Regions from separate parts of the Homo sapiens genome. Here all the other regions are linked to region 4. The links come from fine-mapping of genetic effects on gene expression. A gene starts in region 4. Each other region holds a variant in brackets. All regions are shown on one strand. Distances are between the middles of the regions.

The links. PIP is the estimated chance that this variant, and not a neighbour inherited with it, causes the effect.
Region 1: its variant is the best candidate, but not a certain one, in a credible set for the expression of PLD6 in naive CD8 T cells (Schmiedel 2018, PIP 0.88).
Region 2: its variant is the best candidate, but not a certain one, in a credible set for the expression of PLD6 in whole blood (INTERVAL, PIP 0.81).
Region 3: its variant is the best candidate, but not a certain one, in a credible set for the expression of PLD6 in whole blood (INTERVAL, PIP 0.89).

The regions. Positions count from the first base shown.
Region 1 is chr17:17,047,908-17,053,054 of GRCh38, reverse strand. All of the region lies in intron 1 of MPRIP (myosin phosphatase Rho interacting protein), which reads right to left. Among named protein-coding and RNA genes, the nearest start is that of MPRIP, 8.0 kb to the right of the region's middle. The variant TG/G (reference allele first, on the strand shown) is at 2,740.
Region 2 is chr17:17,120,802-17,125,948 of GRCh38, reverse strand. The region is part of intron 3 of MPRIP (myosin phosphatase Rho interacting protein); the gene reads right to left. Among named protein-coding and RNA genes, the nearest start is that of MPRIP, 81 kb to the right of the region's middle. The variant C/T (reference allele first, on the strand shown) is at 2,008.
Region 3 is chr17:17,028,229-17,033,375 of GRCh38, reverse strand. No RefSeq gene overlaps it. Among named protein-coding and RNA genes, the nearest start is that of MPRIP, 12 kb to the left of the region's middle. RefSeq lists an enhancer at 3,438-4,012. The variant G/TTCAG (reference allele first, on the strand shown) is at 2,775.
Region 4 is chr17:17,204,188-17,209,334 of GRCh38, reverse strand. PLD6 (phospholipase D family member 6) reads left to right here and starts at 3,002. Exons shown (of 2, transcript NM_178836.4): 1 at 3,002-3,475. The coding sequence starts at 3,049. RefSeq lists silencers at 2,694-2,743, 2,784-3,033, 3,154-3,203, 3,224-3,343 and enhancers at 1,969-2,808, 3,864-3,983.

The DNA of each region.
Region 1 (5,147 bases), 160 kb after region 4:
CTCTGGGTATGGCATCAGGAGACCCAGGAGACATGGCCCCTTTCTCTGGCTCAGCTGGGGCTCCCTGCAGCTGCTCCCCCTTCCCTTGGCCCCTTTATCTATGGGAAGGACCACGAGGAGGTCAGAAACCTTGTGTGGAAAGTGCGCCACGGTTGCTTGTGGGTCTGTTAAATCCAGTGCCTCAGAACCTACAGAGATCAAGGACAAAGCTATTTCCTGATTCTGAATTCCTCTTTCAGAGGAAAAAATTGTGCTTCCTGTTCAGAGCTGTGCCAAAGGTGTGGCTGCTGCCTAGGCCAGTAGCCCATGTTGGGGATGTGGGGCACCCCGAGGCTGAGGAGAGGTGAAGATCTGGGCGATGCCCTGCACAACAGCCTGCACCGTTCACACACACGCCCCACCACACACTCAAGAACTAAGGAGTCCAAGTTGGGGCAAGGCCCTGTTCCTGATAGCAAAGGTTAACACTTATTAGAGACAAGGTGGCCAAACAGGACTTTGGAAAAAATCGTGCTGGACTTCCTGTGACCTAGGCAGGTCGCTGAACCTCTGCTGAACCTCTCCAGGTCTCGGCGGCTCCATCTGCTAATTGAAGACAATCCCTCACCTGCATAATGTGGGGGAAAGGCAGGGAGGGCAGGTGCAGACAGCCCCAGCAGGTCCCTCTTCCCAGGGCTAGGAACTAGAAGTCCAGGAAACAGCTGTGATTTATTCTGCAGCACTGCAATATACCAATCTCCCTACTACCCATCTGCCCCGGGGCCAAACAAAAACACTAAGGAGTTTACAAAGCAAAGTGGCCTTCCCAAGGACAGGGAGGATGAGTCTGGAGCCAGGGTGGAGTCTGGAGCCAGGGTGGACTCTGGCACGGGAGCCTCATGGAGCTGAAATCTGTATCACGGCCCCATTGCTGAGCAGCTCAGTGACCTTGGGCAGGCCGCTCAACCACTCTGAAAACTCAGGGTCCCCTCCTCCGAGGGAGGCCTTGCTGCCACCAGCCCTGCTGGCCACCCTTGCCTGCTGAGGTCTGTGTGAAATCACGGGCTATGACACAATATAGTAGGTAGAGGTTCAAAGGATCCGGCAGGCCCATCCACTCAGAGTCTCGCTGCAAAGCAGCTCTGACACCAGGGCCACCTCTGGCACAGCATGCAACCGCCAAGCTGCGCCCAAGGGGAAGGAGCCAGAAGGGTTACAGGCTCCAGGCAAAAACCAGGCTGTGGTTTCATGTGAACTAGGATGACCCTGACTGAGAAAACCAGTGAGTGGTTTGGAAGATTTCAGTTCCAGCTTCCAGAGACAAAATGTCAGTGAATCAACCCCCTAGGTGCTCTTGCCCCCAACGGAAGTGACAATGCCTTGAGAGCTCTGGGTAGGGCATGGGGGCTCCATTCCAGAGCAGCTGTAAGACTGCCTCAATTGCTAAAACTGGAAAAAGCACAAAATCTAGGGCAGAGTTTTCGAACCTGCCCCAAATGGCCCCAGAGATGACCCAAGGCCCTCCCCCGCCACCCCGCCCCAGGATGGGAGGCCAAGCTCCAGGCTTTGGCTGCCTTGCCCAGAGCTGCACTGCTTTTGATGAAAGCTTGAAAACCATCCACCTGGTCCAACGGTGTCATTCAGCTGAGAAAGAGTGGCTTGGGGAATGAGTTTCCCAGGATAAGAGAAGAGCCCGTTTTCTTAGGTCAGATGCTTCCAAATTAGCACCCAATGATCCTCCATGTCCAGTAGTAGGATGTCTTCCCCTGTGCCTCGCTGCCACACTCTCTCCCTCTTTCAAGACTAAGTGGCAGCTTGGGAACAATTTAAACATTCTGAGTTAAATTTCTTTATTTCTGCTAAAGAACATGAGGTTGCCCAAAGAAAGGCTACTTCCCCCAGAGGCGGCAGCCAGCGTGCTTCCTGGAACATCCCTCACCACATGGGGGGCTCAGGAACTCCCCATTCCATCAGCACACTACTCTGCAAAGAGAAGGCAGGCACCCGCTTTACAGGTGGGAGACATAAGTCACCTTCCTGGGTCACCCTGCACATTTGTGTCAGGAAGAGAACATAGGCCTTGGACTATAGTCCTTCTGTGTGGCAAGGGAAAGAGAAATCAGAGGAAAAGATCAGGTAACAGGCTAGAACCCAGGGAAAAAAGCTAGGGTGCAATTACATAATACTGGAACATTGCACGTCCAGTTTAGAGGGGGATACGCCAGCCTGCCCACCACGGCCCTCACCGGCTCCCCACAGGACAGGCCTGAGGCCCTGGCAAGGACCTTCCTCCCTTCTGCCCCTAAACTCTGCCTCTGGGCAGGGAGTGGGGATCAGAGCCCAGAAGAGAACTTCTAACACACCAAAAGAAGCCATCAAAGATGTGATAGTCAAAGAAAGAAACTTCAAAAGTTGGCAATAGACACCAAGGGCCAAGGAGGAGTGGGGACACAAACAGGAGTAACAAGTCCCAGAGAAGCAGCACTCCAGGAACCTTCCAACCCAAGGCCCAAGGGAGGGACGGAGGAAACTCACCACCACCTGTGGCACCCCAGGGCTGCCACCAGGACTGCGGGCAGCGGCCACACCACCAGGCTACTAAGCAGTGGGAAAGTGGCTCGTCTGAGCTGAAATGTGCTGTAACGTAAAATGCGCACGTCATAACTTTTTTGCATGGTGTAATGACAGTATTTTGGATATATCTGGTTAAATAAAACATAATTAAAATTAATTTCACCTCTTTTTTTTTTTTTTTTTTTT[TG/G]AGACGGAGTCTCACTCTATTGCCCAGGCTGGAGTGCAGTGGCGCAATCTCAGCTCACTGCAAGCTCCGCCTCCCGGGTTCACACCATTCTCCTGCCTCAGCCTCCTGAGTAGCTGGGACTACAGGCGCCCACCACCACGCCCGATTAATTTTTTGTATTTTTAGTAGAGACAGGGTTTCACCGTGGTCTCGATCTCCTGACCTCGTGATCCACCCGCCTCGGCCTCCCAAAGTGCTGGGATTGCAGGCGTGAGCCACTGTGCCCGGCCCCGACTAATTTATTGTATTTTTAGTAGAGACGGGTTTCACTGTGTTAGCCAGGATGGTCTTGATCTCCTGACCTCGTGATCCGCCCGTCTCGGCCTCCCAAAGTGCTGAAATTACAGGCGTGAGCCACTGCACCCGGCCCCTCTTTTTACTTTTTTAACGTAGCCGCTGGAAAATTTAAAATTTCCTATGTGGCTTCCATTACAGTTCTAGAGGACAGGGCTGGTCTGAGGGGTGGCACACTGTGCCCCTGTGCCAAATTGGCCCACCAGCTGCTTTTCTAAGACCCCAAAACCAAGAATGGCTTTTACATTTTTAAGTGGCTATATCCTACACAACCTCCTCGATTTTGCCTGTTGGCCTGCAAAACCTAAAATATACAAGATTTCTTTTGAGTAAAAGGCTCCGGGATTTGATGAAAGCTTGAAAACCACCGACCTGGTCCAACTGTGTCATTCAGGTGGGAAAGAGTGGCTTGGGGAAGGAGTTCCCCAGGATAAAAGAAGAGTCCTTTATAAAAAAAATTGCCAAGCCTTGGTCTAGACTCTAGAAACAATCAGATATTCACTCCAGGTGACACAAGGAGCAGAAGGCAGGTGTGTGTGTGTGAGAGAGCGATTCTTGTACAGACAGTCCCTGACTTATAATTTTGACTTTGTGATAGGTCTGATGGGTTTTACCTGGATGTACCCCCACCATAAGTCCCATCATAAGTCAAGAAGCATTTGGAAGTGAACAATTCAGGGGCATTTAGTACATTTCACAAGGCTGTGCAACCAGCACTTTTATCTAGTTCCAAAACATTTCATCACCCCCAAAATAGAACCCCAGTCTCATTAGCAGTCATTCCACATTGCCCACCCAACCCTCAGGCTCTGGCAACAACCGATCTGCTTTCTGTTTCTACAGATTTACCTGTTTTGGACATTTTACATAAATGGAATCACACAGTATGTGACACATGACCTTTCATGTCTGCCTCTTAGCGCAATGTTTTCTAGGTTCGTCCATGTTGTGGCATGTCTCAGTACTTCGCTCCTTCTTAGAACTGAATGATATTCCATGGTATGGATACACTATGATTTGCTTATCTACGCATTAGTGGATGGACACTTGGATTGTTGCTGCCGTTTGGCTATTGTGAGTAGTGCTGTTATGAACATTTGTATACAAGTATCTGTTTGAATACACCTGTCCTCAATTCTTCTTGGCATATACCTAGAAGTGGGAATGCTGGCTCACGTGGTAGGTTTTATGCTGAACTTTTTGAGAAACCCCCAAACTGTTTCCACAGCAGCTACACCATTTCATTCCCACCAGCAACGTGCAAGAGTTATAACTTCTTCACATCCTCGCCAACATGTTATATTCTTATTTTTTTAATTCTAGCCATCCTGACAGGTATGAAGTGATATCTCACTGTGGTTTCAATTTGGGTTTCGCTGATGACAACGCTGAGCATTTGTCATGGTGCTTGGCCGTCTGAAATGGGATTTTGTGTGTCTGAGATTTTTGACACGCTCCCTGCCAAGCAACACACCAACTCCTGTTACAGATCTTCTACAAGGGGGGGATGCGAAATCTCCCCGTTGTTTCTGAGATACACATTAAGTCAAATCAGGAAGTCCTATGCCTTAGAACTTCTACGAATGTCTACAGGAACAAAGGGAAACCTGATGAAATGCTTCCCTGAGACCTCGTCCTGGCCCACACCCTCTATGTCTGAAATTCCCACCTGAGGCCCCCGCAGCTTTGGAGCCTTGGCAGTGGGGTATGGGCACAGCAAGGGCAGAATCACACCAGGAAGACTAAGAACCCTGGGAGAGATCAAGACCGAGCTCATTTCCAGATGGGAAAACAGGCCTGAGCAATGAAAATGACCCAGCCAAGGTCCCACAAAAAAACAGGGCTAGACAAAGAAGTAGAAACAGGCTTGCAGGCTCCTTCCACAGAGGCAATGCCTGAAGTTACACAGTCAGCAGGAGAAAGAGACATCACCCCCAGATCAACACGCGGATGTAGAAGCTGAGCACCCTGGGTTCCAGACCTGCTTCTCCCACTAATGCCCACCCCTCTGATTCACCTCCCAGCCTCTGCACCTGCTCCCCTTTTGCCTGCCCACTACATGGGGGCTTCCTAG
Region 2 (5,147 bases), 83 kb after region 4:
CTTTGGGAGAGCAGATGGGTTGCCATGGTTACCACCACACCAGGGGTGCCCCTGTCCTTAACACACTCCACACTGACTCCACCCCACTAATGGACAGCTGCTGGCTTCTCCACTGAGCACCCCCAACAGCCCACCATTTCCTTGTTCTCATTCTTGAAGAAGCAGAAGATGCTTCTGATCCATCTGAGGGGTGGCCTGCAGTTGGGCTGCCTTCCACCCAGAGGCCATCCAGCCTCAAGCTCCTTGCTGACAGTCAATGGGGGCTTGGTCTCAAGAGCAGGATGCTGGGTCTGGTGCCCATGCTGAGCTCAGACCAACCACTCTCCACACCCCGACCTTCTTCCTTTCAGAAACAGGTTAGGTGCAACCTCCTTGTCCCTCCACCTCAAGCTCCTGTGATCTTCCTGTTACTTCCTCTGACCTACTTGCCACCTCTTTCTACACCCCTTGATGCCTGCCTGCAGGAGTCAGACCGGAGGGCTGCTGGCTTTGCAGAGCCCTTGCCTACATGGCTGCTGGCTCTTTTCTCCATGGTTAAATGTCCAGGTCCAAGAAGCCTTTCCTTGTGGGGTCTCTGGACTCAGCCATCCCCCGTGGGTCCAGCTCAGAAGGGAGGTGGCACAGCAGGTGGGATGGAGGCTGGGCTCACAGGGAAGCCTCCTTCAGTGGCTTCACCCTTTCAGCATACACCATTGGCATCCTGCCTCAACACTGACCCTGGGGGGACACGAGGAGGAGCCACATTCAAGCCCAGCTCAGTGCTCTCCATCAGTGGAGTGGCCCGCAGGTGTCTCTTCCAGACACTCTTGGAGGGTCCTTGAGAAGGAGCCAGGAAAGGGAGATGGGTAGGGTTGCTCTGCAACCAAGCAGTGGGTGTTTCTTGAGAAGGAGAGGGTACAGGAGGCAGCCTCAGACCCCATCTTTATGTTAGTCCAGGAAGCCTGGATCCAAGCCCCTGCCACCTTCTGGTTGGGGAGACCCACACTGAGTGCTATGGCCACAGCCACAGGACAGGTGGGCCTTCCTGCCCAAGGTGGGGGTCCTGGCTTTCCTAATCTCCTCTCTCCAGCTCCAGCCCCTTTACTCTATTTGACAGAAATTCTCATCCTGGGCATCCTGGCATAGTGCAGGTGCCTGTCTGAACCCTCTGGGCAAATGAAGGGTTGCTCTGACTTCCCTCTTGAGCCCAACACCCCCATGCAAAAGCGCACCCCACCTCCACCTCCCTAGACAAGGCATCTTGTCTCTCTGAGGTGGACTCTCTTGTTTGCTGAGGAAACTCCATGGACCACAGTGAGGACTGGATGACATGAAATGGTAAAGTGGCCAGTGCACTCGTTACTAGAGTGTCAGAAGCCATCCTGAAGGAACCACTGTGGAGGCAGAGGGGCTTTCCTAAGGTGGCCCTTCCTCTCTGGTCTTTGACTCCCACCCTGGTCCTTGGGACCGTGGTCTCAAACTGCTGACAGTACAGGCCCTGGATGAGCTGTGTATCCATACCATGGTGCCAGTCTATTATGAGTGTGCATGCGTGTGCACACACACACACAGAGACATATGTTAGATGGAATATATCAACAGAAATTCCAAAGTTTTCTTCTCAAGGGATCATCCACCGGCCCCCTGGAGGCACAGACCCCACTTTGAGGCCACTGTTCCAGGGTTCAGTGTCACCAAATTGCTCACTGTCCCTGAAGCCCACTCTTCCCTCTTACGCAGTAATTGTTTGGGCACTTGGCCCCCAGCTGAACAAAGCCCCTGCTCTGCTGCTGAACGTGGTTGTGTCTCAGCCTCACCAAATGAGTATGAAGCAATGCCTTCCACCTCTCCACCTCTCTGGGCCTCAGTTTCCTCATGTGCAAAGTGAGGGTTCTATCTCCTTCCAAAAAGGATTTCAGAAGCATTAATAAAAGGCAAAAACATACCAAGCTGAGCCAGGACTGAAGGAAATTAGCATGTATTAACTACCTGTGTGTCAAGATTTCACAGTTACACTCCCTTTTATGC[C/T]CTCTTCAATATTACTTACTGTGAGGCGGGCATCACCTAACCCTATCACACACAGAGAAAGGAGAGCAAATGGGGGTAAATACGTTATCAAAGAAGGGAATATTTTAACTCCAGAGCCCAATCTATTTCCATGGAGGAGGGAAAAAAAACTTCCTGCTCTTAATCAGATGATCTCATTTTTATTTAATCCTGGTATTAACTTTTCGTTTTTTCTTTCTTTTTTTTTTTTTTTTTTTTTGAGACGAAGTCTCGCTCTGTTGCCCAGGCTGGAGTGCAGTGGTGTGATCTCAGCTCACTGCAACCTCCATCCCCTGGGTTCAAGGGATTCTCCTGTCTCAGCCTCCCAACTAGCTGGGACTACAGATGCATGCTACCACACCCAGCTAATTTTTGTATTTTTAGTATTATATTTTTGTATTTTATAGTAATTTTTGTATTTTTAGTAGAGACGGGGTTTCACCATGTTGGCCAGGCTGGTCTCGAACTCCTGACATCAACTGATCCGCCTGCTTCAGCCTCCCACAGTGCTGGCATTACAGGCGCGAAGCCACCGCCCCTGGCCTAACTTTTCTTTTTAACAACAGCTTTATTGAGATATAATTTACATACAATTTACCTAAAGTGTACAGTTCAATGGCTTTTAGCATCATGTTCACAGAGCTGTTCTGCAATCAAGTGCAGAACATTTCCATCTCCCCCTGAAAAGCCATTCGCAGTCACTTCCCTTTGACACCTGTCCCCACCTCAACAACTGCTAACCTGCTTCCTGCCTCTGTGGATGCATCTCTTCTGGATACCTTGCATAAATGGAAAAATCTGGCTTCCATTTAGCATATTTTCAAGGATTTAGCATATTTTCAAGGTTCCTCCGCATTGCAGCATGTGTCAGTCTTTCAATACTTTTTACAGCTGAATAACGTTCCATTGTGCGGCTATACCGCATTTTGTTTATCCATTCATCTGTTGATGGACATTTGGACTGTTTCCATTTTTTGGCTACTGTGTATAGTGCTGCTGTGCACATTCCTGTACAGTGCTCCTGTGCTCTCATTTCTCTTGGGTGTGTACCTAGGAGCAGAAGTGCTGGGTCATATGGAAACTATATGTTTAACTCTGAGGAGCTGCCAGACTATTTCCCAAAGTGGCTGTGCCATCTCACATTCCCACTAGCACTGCGTGAGGGTTTGGGACTAACTTTTTAAATTGTATTTATGTACTGCTTCTAACCAGCACTCTTGGAAGACAGGTCCAGGTACGTACTGAGGACCTGCTATAAAATAGCTCCCTTTGGCCAGGCGCAGTGGCTCATGCCTGTAATCCCAGCACTTTGGGAGGCCAAGACGGGCGGATCACGAGGTCAGGAGATCGAGATCATCCTGGCTAACACGGTGAAACCCTGTCTCTACTAAAAATACAAAAAATTAGCTGGGCGTGGTGGCAGTCGTCTATAGTCCCAGCTACTCGGGAGGCTGAGGCAGGAGAATGGCGTGAACCCGGGAGGCGGAGCTTGCAGTGAGCCGAGATTGCGCCACTGCACTCCAGCCTGGGTGATGGAGCGAGATTCCATCTCAAAAACAAAACAAAACAAAACAAATAAACAAAAAAACAACAAAATGAAAACAAAAAACAGCTCCCTTCGATTGTGGAGAGAAAGGAACACTTATACACTGTTGGTGGGAGTGTAAATTAGTTCAGCCATTGTGGAAGACAGTGTGGCAATTCCTCAAAGACCTAAAGATAGAAATACCATTTGATGCAGCAATCTCATTACTGGGTATATACCCAAAGGAATATAAGTCATTCTATTATAAAGACACATGCATATGTATGTTCACTGTAGCACTATTCACAATAGCAAAGACACGGAATGCCCATCAATGATACAGACCAGAGAAAGAAAATGTGATATATATACACCATGGAATATTATGTAGTCATAAAAAAGAATGAGATAATACCCTTTGCAGGGACATGGATGGAGCTGGAGGCCACTATCTTTAGCAAACGAACACAGGAACAGAAAACCACACAGCACATGCTCTCACTTGTAAGTGGGAGCTAAATGATGAGAACATATAGACACATGGAGAGAAACAACACACACTGGGGCCTTTCAGAGTGGGGAGGGTGGGAAGAGGGAGAAGATCAGGAAAAGTAACTAATGGGCATTAGGCTTAATATCTGGGTGATGAAATAACCTGTACAACAAACTTCCATGACACAACTTTACCTATGTGACAAACCTGCACTTGCACCCCTGAACTTAAAAAAAGAAAAAGAAAAAGAAAATAGCTCCCTCCAAGTCTCAGTAGTGCAGTGTTCCCCCTTCCCCTGCTGCCGATGGGGAAGCAGCAACAACAGCACCAGCACAGGCGCAGGGCACAATGGTGCTCATGTTTGCGCCCATGCCCTTGAATACCACGCACTGCTGCAAACTCTTCCCGTGTCCTCTCACTGAACATTCCGAACACACTATGAGGCAGGCACTACTGTCACTCTCATCCCGCAGACAAGGAAGCAGACTGCTAAGAAGCTAGGTGCAGTCATGCACCGCACAACGATGTTAGTCAACAGCTCCCTCTATGTTTTGCTAGGTTTGGATACATCAATACTTGCCACTGTGTTATAACTGCTTGTGATATTGCAGTATATGCTGTACAGGTTTATGGCTTCGCAGCAATAGGCTCTACCACAAAGCCTAGGTGTGCAATAAGCTGTACTGTCTAACTTTGTGTAAGTGCACTCTAGAATATTTACACAAGGACCAAACTGCCTGAGAAAACACATTTCTCAGGATGTGTGCCTGTCATTAAACAACGCAGAACTGTAATTTTGATTTAAGGTCACAATGCTAGGAAGTAGCCATGTCAGGATTCAAACCCAGGCACTCTGGTTCCAGAGCTGGTCCCCCTGCTGCTCTGCACTCAGCAGCATTTCCAGACTGAACAGACTCAACCAATGGCTCCAGGGAGCCCCTCAGCCAGCACCTCTCCCCTCCCCTGCCTCTGCCTAGGGGGCAGGATACAACCATCTGTGTCTGGGTAGGCCTGAATCTTGTGCTGCGAGAGTAAGGGCAAATATCTAGGCTGTAACCCAAATCCAGCCAGAAGGAACGCCTCAGCTCTAACGCTGTCAGCAAA
Region 3 (5,147 bases), 180 kb after region 4:
AAAGTATGTATGGCCTCACATAGTTTTTGCTGAATGAGACCGTATTTGTAAAAACTCTAATAACAAGGTGTATGTCTACATGAATGTGTATATATGCACATGTAGGCTGGGCACGGTGGCTCATGCCTGTAATCCCAGCACTTTGGGAGGCCAGGGTGGGCGGATCACCTGAGGTTAGGAGTTCGAGACCAGCCTGGCCAACATGGTGAAACCCCATCTCTACTAAAGATACAAAAAAATTAGCCAGGCATGGCGGTGTGCGCCTATAATCCCAGCTACTCGGGGGGCTGAGGTAGGACAATCTCTTGAACCGGGGAGGTAGAGGTTGCAGTGAGCTGAGATGGCGCCACTGCACTCCAGCCTGGGTGACAGAGCAAGACTTCATCTTAAAAAATTATATATATATATATATATATATATATATATATGTATATATATATAATGTACATGTGCATACACACAGGGACACAGGGCTGCATATGTATGCGTATGTGCGTATCTAGCCATTCATGAACAATGTTTGTGTACTTTTTAAATTTTTTTTTTCTTAGGATAAATTCATGGGTTGGGATTGCTAAGTCAAAAGATAAACACATTGGTAAGGCTCTTGATAAGTATCACTAAACAAAGAGCCAAGAAAGTTGTAGTAATCTGCTCTCTGGATTGACATGTTTTTCTTTTTCAGGACATGCAGGGAAGCATGTAGTTCCAGGGTTGCACACTCAGAGGCCTCTAGGGCCAGGCAGGTGGCAGCAGTGGCCTCAGTGATCTGGGGTGTCCATGCTCCTACAACAGGCAGCAGCTCCATGGCCTCGGTCGTAGCCGTCTGTCCTACAGGATTTGGGCCTGGTCGTGATCGATCTTTTAATTTTCCAAAAGAAATCAGAAATCGAGGTTGTTACACAAATTGTCAGGGCCTACTCAGCTGTGGGGAGGGGGCCTTCAGGGTCCCACAGCCAAGAAGAAGAGGCCTGGGACTCAAGAGGCAGGCAACACAGGCCACAGGCTGGGCTGTCCCTGCCCTGGCCCCACCATCTGCACCAAGCCTGGAGGACGGCCAGCTGGCCGGGGCAGGGAGAGGCGGCAGCTCTTCCGGCCTGCGTGCCTGCGTGTGGCCAGGCTGGGGAGTGGAGGTTTGCTCAGAGTCCACAGGAATGGGGGCTGACACTTCTAGTTCACCATATCACTTCAGGGGCTGTGACTCGTGGGTGTGTGTAAGAGTCATTGATATATCATCTCCTTATGTGTCTGTGTCTGTGCATGTCCAGAGGGTGGTCTGGCTATCTCTGAGGGTGTTTCTGGGAATGACCATGTTATGTGTCTACATGCATGTTGGCCTGTTTATCTGGGGGTCTGACCTGCATCTCTGACTTGTGAATATGTGTGTGAATTGTACAGATGCATCCATCTTTGCATGTCATATGATCTGTGAGATGATGGTACATATTTATGTGTGTTTGTGGGCAACTGGGCTATCTGGCTGGCCCCACTGCATATATATCTGGGCTTCTATGTGATTGTCTGTGAGTGTCATTGTGTGTGTGTATTCTGTCTGATTGAGCTGTATATGTTTGCATGTCTGTTTTATATATGCAGGTCCATGTGTCCATATCTATGTGCATGTTTGGGCTTGGCAAGTTGCCTCATACCTATAATCCCAGCACTTTGGGAGGCTGAGGCAGGAGGATCGCTTGAGGCCAGGAGTTTGAGACCAACCCGGACAGCATGGTGAGACCTCATCTCTACAAAAAAATTAAAAATTAGCTGGGCATGGTGGCACACACCTGTAGGCCCAGCTACTTGAAAGACTGAGGCGGGGGGATCGCTTGAGCCCAGGAAATTGAGGCTGCAGTGAGCTAGGATGGCATGACTGCACTCCAGGCTGGGCGACAGAGTGAGAACTTGTCTCTAAAAATAAAATAAAAATAATAAATAGAATAAGGTAAGTGCAGTCTGTGCCTATGCCTCTGCACAAGTGCGTGTCAGCATGCATAGTTGTGTGTTGTGTCCGGCTGAGTAGGCACATGTGCATGCGTGTGAGTGTTGGATGCTGGGGCAGTCAGGGTTCGAGTCACTGACAGTCAGCACCCACTCCTCACTTCCTCATGCCTGGTTCCTACAGGTCCCCACAAGAAGCATGTAGGGCCCAAGCACCCCCTGCCACCTCTGAACCCCAAGCACAGGCACGAGAAGGTAAGGGTGGCCGACTGCAGGGCCCAGGCTTGGAGGACCCTGGAGCCGACTCCTGGTGCATGTACCACGACTGCCAGCCTGCCTTGGCCTGGCTCCTGGGAAACACTTGCCCTTGGCCAACTGGAGAGCTGTCGATTTGGGACACAGCCCCACAGTGGCCACCACTTTATCCCACCCTCAAATACTTCCTAAGGCCATTTGTTGCTAGGAGACGGGTACAGGCAGCCTGCTTTGATGGCTCTCTAGACACAGGCTCCAGGGACAGGAAGCCTGTCTGGCCCCTTTCCTATGAAGTGGCTGGGGAGACTGGGGGTGGGCATCGGGGATGAAGGATAGACGGGGCAGCTTGGACAGAGTAAGCAGCAGGAAGTCTCAGAGCCTTAGGAGCAGAGGGGCCCTGGTACCCCTTGGTCAGGATGCTGAGCCCAGAGAGGGCAAGATCCTGACTTAGGTCACACAGCAACAATCCCCGGCAGAACTAGCATTCCTTTTGGAGAAATTCAGAGTTCATGGCCCCAGGAGTCATTCATTCACTCATGCATGCATTCATTCATTCATTCATTCATTCATTCATTCATTCA[G/TTCAG]CAATTACATATTAAGCATCTACTATACGCCAGGCCCACTACTAAGCCCCGGCATACAGCAGTGGAAAAGACGGAGGCAATCCTCACCTCACAAAGCTGATACTCTCGTCAGAGAGACAGAAAACAAGTGAAGTTAAGATCACGTCACTTTGTGCTAAGGGCTAGTAAATAAAATTACACCATGTAGAACATTGGAGTCGCTCTGTCCAAATGGTGGCCACTAGCCCCATGTGGCTATATGAGTTTCAAGTAATTGGAGTAATTGAAAATTAAGAGTCCAGTTCTTCCATTGCAGTAGCCGCATTTCAGGGGCTTGTTAGCCACACGGGGCCGGTAGCTTCTGACAGAGGCTGGTGACAGTGGACAAAGAGCACTTCCATCACAGAAGGAGCTGCCGGACAGGGCTGGTGTGGGGAGTGGACAGAAGGCTGGGGGCCAGATGGCCGAGGACAGCGACATCTAGGCTGTCCTGCTGAGAAGGGGCGGCCACATGGTGATGCACCCGGGGGACAGGACAGCAGGTGCAATGCTGGCCAGGTGGGGATGTGCTTGGTGTGTTCAAGGGACAGAAAGGACAGAGGCAGTGAGGGGAGAGGAGAGAGAGGTGGGGTTGGGGAGGTCAGCGGGGGTCTCTGGGGCCTGGGTAAGGAGTTTCTGCTTTATGTGGAGGGCGTCAGGAAGCCATGGGGGGAGGGGTTAAGCAGGAGAGTGGCATGGTTTTAACAATATATGGAGAATGGATTTGTGGGGGCAAGAGTGGAAGGAAGGAGCCCTAGGGAGGAGGCTGTTGTGTCACAGAGAGGAAGGTGACTGAGACCTGGGTGATATGGGAGTGGGGGTTGGGCAACAGCCATCATAGCCCAAGCCTCAGGGTTATGGATCCAGCTGTGCCTGAAGCTACGGCTTGCTTGACACCCCCTCTACCTCCTTCCTCCTCTTGGTTGCTGGGCACTGACTTGAACACCCCTCATTACTACCACCCACCTATCCCCTCCCTCACAAAACCCCCGACTGTCTCTCCTCCTATCCCTGTGCGGAGCACTCAGACGGGACCTAGGCTTCCCTCAGTGCCCTGGGTCCAGTTTCTTTTGCCGGGCTTTGCCCCTCTCATCGCATCCCAGGGTTGATAAGCTAGCCCTGTCTAGTCACATTGAGGTCCTGGGAAAATACCTTAGGCCACCTGGTGTTTCACTGACTTTCCCCACCAGGACGCTTTCCTGGAGCTGTGAGCAGGATGCAGGAGGAATCAGCTGGCTCTGGGTCTGGGGGGTGGGAGTGACTAAAAGAGAAGGCTCAGCTTCAGTTGCAAAGTCCCCCAGAGGGACTTTGGTTTGTTTACGGGAAGAACTTCCCCTCTATAAAAGGGCCGATGTCATCCTTGTGCATTCGTGCATTCACAGTGGAGGGGATCCCCTAGGACCCTAAAAATGAGGTGGAAAGCCTTCTCCCTAGGGCAGGCGTCCAGAGGCCGGCTCTGCTTCTCAAACGCTGGGCACTCATTCCTCCTCAGGATCTTTGCAGCTGCAGTTCCCTCTGCCTGGAATGCTGTTCCCCTAAGACCCCAGGTGGCGTCTCCATCTGGCTGCCAAGTCTCCTCCTGAGCGATTATGCGGATTACCTGATGAGCACGGCTTCCTCCTTGGAAGCACCTTGTTTTGTCTCCGGTACTAGAACGCCAGCTCCACAAGGGCAGGGCGGTTGTTGATCTTGTTTTTCTCTGTCCCCTCCTGTCTGACACTATGCCTGGCATATGGTGGATGTTCCCAGGAGGTTTCTGGAATGAGCAGATGTCTGGGGTGAGTGTGGGCAGGTGGCTGCCATGCATACAGAGCCTGCCAGGCCCCAGGGGGCTCAGACTCACCCTCTGACTGCACCCTCCCAATGGGGATCAGGACTTTGAGGCTTGGAGAGGTGAGGTCACTCACCCGAGGTTGCACAGGCAGTATGTGGTGGGCCTGGTCTGGAGAGGCCTGGAGGGGACTTGGGGGTGTTGGAGGCTGGGCCACGGCCTGGGGACACACTGCCTTTCCACATGACAGCTCTCCATCCGTCCACAGCCCCTGCTTCCCCTGCCAAGTCGCACCTGGGGCTTCCCTGGCCACCTTGGGTCCTCAGGTACAATTGCACTGCAGGGCACTGGCCTGTGGCACACAGCAGCAGGCCCTGCAGCCCAGATTCACACAGCAAGCGAATGAGGCATAGCTGAAAACCGTGCACATGGTGGCCTCAGTCCACACAGGGTGGACCCAGCCCTGGACAGGCATGTGGCTCCACCCAACACTGAGCAGGCAGCCCTGCCTCCTGAGTGCACCTGCCACGCCCAGGGCTTACGTCAGCTGGGGGGACTGGGGCAGCCTCTCTGAAGAATGCAGC
Region 4 (5,147 bases):
GTTTACCCTGATGTGATTATTACAAATTGCATGTCTGTACCAAAATATCTCATGTACCCGATAAATATATATACCTACTATATACCGACAAAGTTAAAAATAGAAACTGGAAGACAAAAAATAAATAAAAATCAAATAAAGCTTCTCATTTTGTTGTCTGCCTTTGGTAGATTTCCAGCCCTGAAGTGGCTGTTTTTGAAAACTGTTTTCCCCCAGTTTTATTTTTGTTTATCCCTCTCTGGAGGGATTTGAGTCCTTCTTTATACCTCCACAACTCCAAGTCCCTCCTCTCATTATCGTTTTAGATGAGGAAAGTGAAGCTCAGAAGAGATGAATCAATTTGCCCTAGACCATGCAGCTAGGAAGCCTGGGAGCCAGCACTAAACTCAAGTGTTCTTTTTCTTTGTTAAGAATTTTATTCGCCAGGCACGGTGGCTCACACCTGTAATTCCAGCACTTTGGGAGGCCGAGGCAGGCTGATCACGAGGTCAGGCGATCGAGACCATCCTAGCTAACACGATGAAACCCCGTCTCTACTAAAAATACAAAAACAAAAATTTAGCCGATGTGGTGGTGTGCATTTGTAGTCCCAGCTACTTGGGAGGCTGAGGCAGGAGAATTGCTTGAACCCAGGAGGTGAAGGTTGCAGTGAGCCGAGATCGTGCCACTGCACTCCAGACTGGGCGACAGAGCGAGACTTCATCTCAAAAAAAAAAAAAAGAAGGCCGGGTGCGGTGGCTCACGCCTGTAATCCCAGCACTTTGGGAGGCCGAGGCAGGTGGATCACGAGGTCAGGAGTTCGAGACCAGCACGGCCAAGATGGTGAAACCCCATCTCTACTAAAAATACAAAAATTAGCCGGGTGTGGTGGTGGGCGCCTGTAATCCCAGCTGCTCGGGAGGCTGACGCAGAGACTCACTTGAACCCCGGAGGCAGAGGTTGCAGTGAGCCGAGATCGCACCACTGCACACCAGCCTGGGCGAAAGAACGAGGCTCCGTCTTAAAAAAAAAAAAAAGAATTTTATTGACATAATCACTGACATACATTTTTAGTTATTTACACCATACAATTTGACATATGTATATACCTGTGAAACCACCACAGTCAACCCGATAAGCACACATCCATCACTCCACTTCCTTGTGGCTTTGTTGGCCTCCAGGCTACACTGGTCTGCTTTCCCTCAATCTAGTTTGCATTTTCTAGAATTTTATGTAAATGGAATCATACAGTATGTACTCTTTTTGTCTGGCTTTTCCCACTCAATATTAATGAAATTCATCCACGTCGTAGCACATGTGAGTACTGTTTTTTTTTTTTTTTGGTGGGGGGGGGATAGGGTCTTGCTGTGTCACCCAGGCTGGAGTGCAATGGCATGATCTTGGCTCACTGCAACCTTAGTCTCCAGAGCTCAAGCGATTCTCCCACCTCAGCCTCCCGAGTAGCTGGGATCACAGGCACGTCAGCGCACTCAGCTAATTTTTGTATTTTTTGGTAGAGACAGTGTTTCACCATGTTGGCCAAGCTGGTTTCGAATTCCCGAACTCAAGCTGTCCTCCTGCCTCAGCCTCCCAAAGTTCTGGGATAACAGGCATGAACCACCGTGCCAGGCCACTTCATTCTATTTTATTGCTAAATAGCATTCCCTTGTACAGATATACAAAAGCTTATTTACCTGTTTACCTGCTGACGCCTTTTTGGGTTGTTCTAGGCACATACGCCTGCCAGGACACGTGCTTGTGTTAATGGATCCCGCCCTTTCTCCTAGGAGTGGGATAGCTGGATCATATGGAAGGTGCAAGTTTAATATTTTAATAAACTTTTAATTTAGAATAATTTGCTTTACAGAAAAGTTTCGAATATAGAACAGAGAGATCCATTTACCCCCACGCAGCTTCCTTTGTTAACCTTTTACATTCCTTTCATACATTTGTCAAAGCTAAGAAACTGACATTGGTACAATGCGATTAAGCTCCAGACTTTATTTGGCTCTCACCAGTTTTTCCGTGAATGTCTTCTTTCGGTTCCAGGATCCAGCCCAGACCACCACATTGCCCCGTTTCCCTATGCCCCCGGCCCAGTGCCCTCGGCTGCCTTAGTCTCTTCCTCTGTTTATGCTTAAAGCAGGGCAGGCCTTCCAACAACGCCGGCTGGAAAAAACCTCTTGGGCTAGGAAAAAACCTCTGGGCCGACACCGCCTCCAGTATGCTGGGTTCCAATGCTGCCTCCAGCTGTGTTGATTCCCTGATTATCTGTGTTCCCAGGTCATTCCCCAGCCCAGCCTAGCTGCTCCCGAGAAGACAGTGAAGGTGTGACCCCACATTTCCAGAGCAGCTCTGCTGTGCTCCATGCGAGGAAAGCCGGGGTTGCTGTGGCTTCTAGCGCGGAGAGCGGTCTCTGGCCTGGGCAGGTGACGGGTGTGCTAGGGCCCGTGGCCCGCGGGTGTGCAGGTGCTGCCTGGTGGCGCGGGCTTGGGGACGTGGCTTGGCACGTGGTGGGAGGTGGAACCTGGAGGGCGTGGCCGAGCGCCTGGCTGGAAGGAAAATGGGGGGCACAGCCTGGCGTTGGGGGGTGGAGGGTGTCTGTGGCAGGGGGCGTGGCCTGGCGCGTGGAGGGAGGCGTGGTCACCTGTTGAGGGTTGGGGGCGGGCTGATGGGAGGCGTGGGTTCAGCTTGGTGCGTGACAGTTGTGGGGGCATGGCGCGGCCTAGCGCGTGGCCCTCGGGGGCTGAGGGCGTGACCTTGCACGTGGCCGTTGGTGGGGCGTGACGGGGGCGTGGCCTGGCGTGTGGCCATGGGTGCTGGGCGTGGCCTGGCACGTGGCCTGGCACGTGGCCGTTGGCGCTGCGTGACGGGGGCGTGGCCTGGTGCGTGGCAATTGGCAGGACGTGATAGGGCGTGGCCTGGCGCGTGGCCATGGGGGGCTGGGCGTGGCCTGGCACATGGCCGCTGGCGGCGCGTGACGGGGGCGTGGCCTGGCGGTCTAGGGCTGGGGGCGCGCAGACTCCGCTGCGGCGGCGTGGCTGTGGGTCCCGGATTAGCGGCGGCATGGGACGGTTGAGTTGGCAGGTGGCGGCCGCGGCGGCTGTGGGCCTGGCTCTGACTCTGGAGGCGCTGCCTTGGGTGCTGCGCTGGCTGCGGTCCAGGCGGCGGCGGCCGCGGCGCGAGGCGCTGTTCTTCCCGTCTCAGGTGACCTGTACCGAGGCCCTGCTGCGGGCTCCGGGCGCGGAGCTGGCCGAGCTCCCCGAGGGCTGCCCGTGCGGCCTGCCCCACGGCGAGAGCGCGCTAAGCCGCCTGCTGCGTGCCCTGCTGGCCGCCCGCGCCAGCCTGGATCTCTGCCTGTTCGCCTTCTCCAGCCCGCAGCTGGGCCGCGCCGTGCAGTTGCTGCACCAGCGTGGGGTGCGAGTGCGGGTCGTCACCGACTGCGACTACATGGCCCTCAACGGCTCGCAAATCGGTCTGCTGCGCAAGGCAGGTAGGCCCGGCGGGGTCCAAGCGGAGAAGGCCGGCTTGGCCCACGCGGGGTCCTAGGCGCAAAGGTGGACACTTAGGGGAGGGGGTCTGGGGACGGGCTGAGGCCTCATTTACTTTCCTCGTGGCCTTGTGGGGTCGGGGTGGTGTAACGCGGAGAAAGCAGAGCCCCCACAGAAGGTCTAGCCGGCTGCGTGGGCATAAGCGAGCCGGACCCTCGGTGCCTCCGCGGTGGGGGCGGTTCTCTCAGTGAACTGTCCCGGCATGCTGGAAGCAGGTGGGCCTGCGTGTGCCGGGTTAGAGGCGGAGCAGATTCCCCTAGCAACTCCTCGGGCGCCGCCGGCGGAGTTTTCGTGACTGCTGCAGCCCGGGCCCGCCCTCCTACGCTGCCGGAGATCCCCGGACGGCCTCTGGTAACCTGGATCCTGGTGGCAGGGGAGCTGGACGCCAGGGTTGTGCTTGGACTTCCAGACTGAAGGGCTCTGGGGAGAGGCGGCCACCTGCTGCCCAGTGAATCTCAGGCCACTGGGCTCTGGGAGACCTGAACATGTTCTAGAAAGCAGCGCCAGGACATTCGGTTGTTTTCCCAGCTGCAAAAGGAGGGGAACACATATTTCTGGCGGGGGCGCCTCTCTCATGGGGTGGGGACAGAAGGGACCAGGAAATGTGAATAATTGGGATCCTTGTCCCACCTGAGGATTCTCAGTCCATCCTGGCCCAGTTCGGCGGCCCAGCCTGCTGTTGCCTTTTGTGTATCTGCACTCACAGACTCTTGGGCCTGTCTCTGTCTCCATCACTCAGGCACCCAGAAAGTCACGCCTGCACGTGCAACGGTTGGATCTGATAATACTGGTGGTCGCAGTGACCGAGAGATGTGTGGAGCCCTGGGAATTGTCCAGGCTGGGCAGTGGTCACCGCCGCGCTGTTCCTTCTGCACAGCCATAGCCTCTTGTTGACTTGGGCCTCAGAGCAGCCTCTCCAGAGTCAGCCAGGGTCCCTCCCTGCTCTGGGTGGTGTGGGGCATGTTGCACGCCATGTGGGAGCAGAGTGGGGCACGTGGTTTTCATATTGAGGATGTCTCCTTCTCTTTGGGGCAGCCACAAGAGCTGTCCTCCCATGTGTTGGTCATTTTAACGGGAGGTTTGGGGACCTCCAGGCATGCACAGTACAGTTCTGTTTGAGTTGCTTTTACAGTCGTAGAAGCTGAGGTTGGTGAAGACCCTTCAAGGGCCCCTAGACCAAGGTCCCATCGGATCCCCTCTGGGATGGCCTCCCAGCATCCTCGCTGACTTCGAGGCTGTCCAGTGGCATTCACTGTTCAAGGAATGTCCCCTCTGTGCCAGTATTTGTGAGGAGCTGGAACATCCTAGGGCACAAGGGCACAAGGCCAGGTTGCCACGGAGATGCCAACTAAGTCATGAATATTTCATTTAGGGCACTGAGAAGGGCCAAGAAAACTTCATAAAGCAGGGTAAGGAGGCAGTGGTGTGGGAGGAAGTGGCGTGGGCCAGGTCAGCTGCCCAGGGGCAGTGACACTCAGGGCAGGGACCTTGCTGACACCAGTGGACTGTTCGGAGGGAGAGGCATGCGGCTGGAAGGGGCAGCAGCACAGTCGCCCTGGGTCACAGACTGACTTCCTTTTGAGGAAGGGCAGGAAGTCCCCTGTGGCCAGAGGT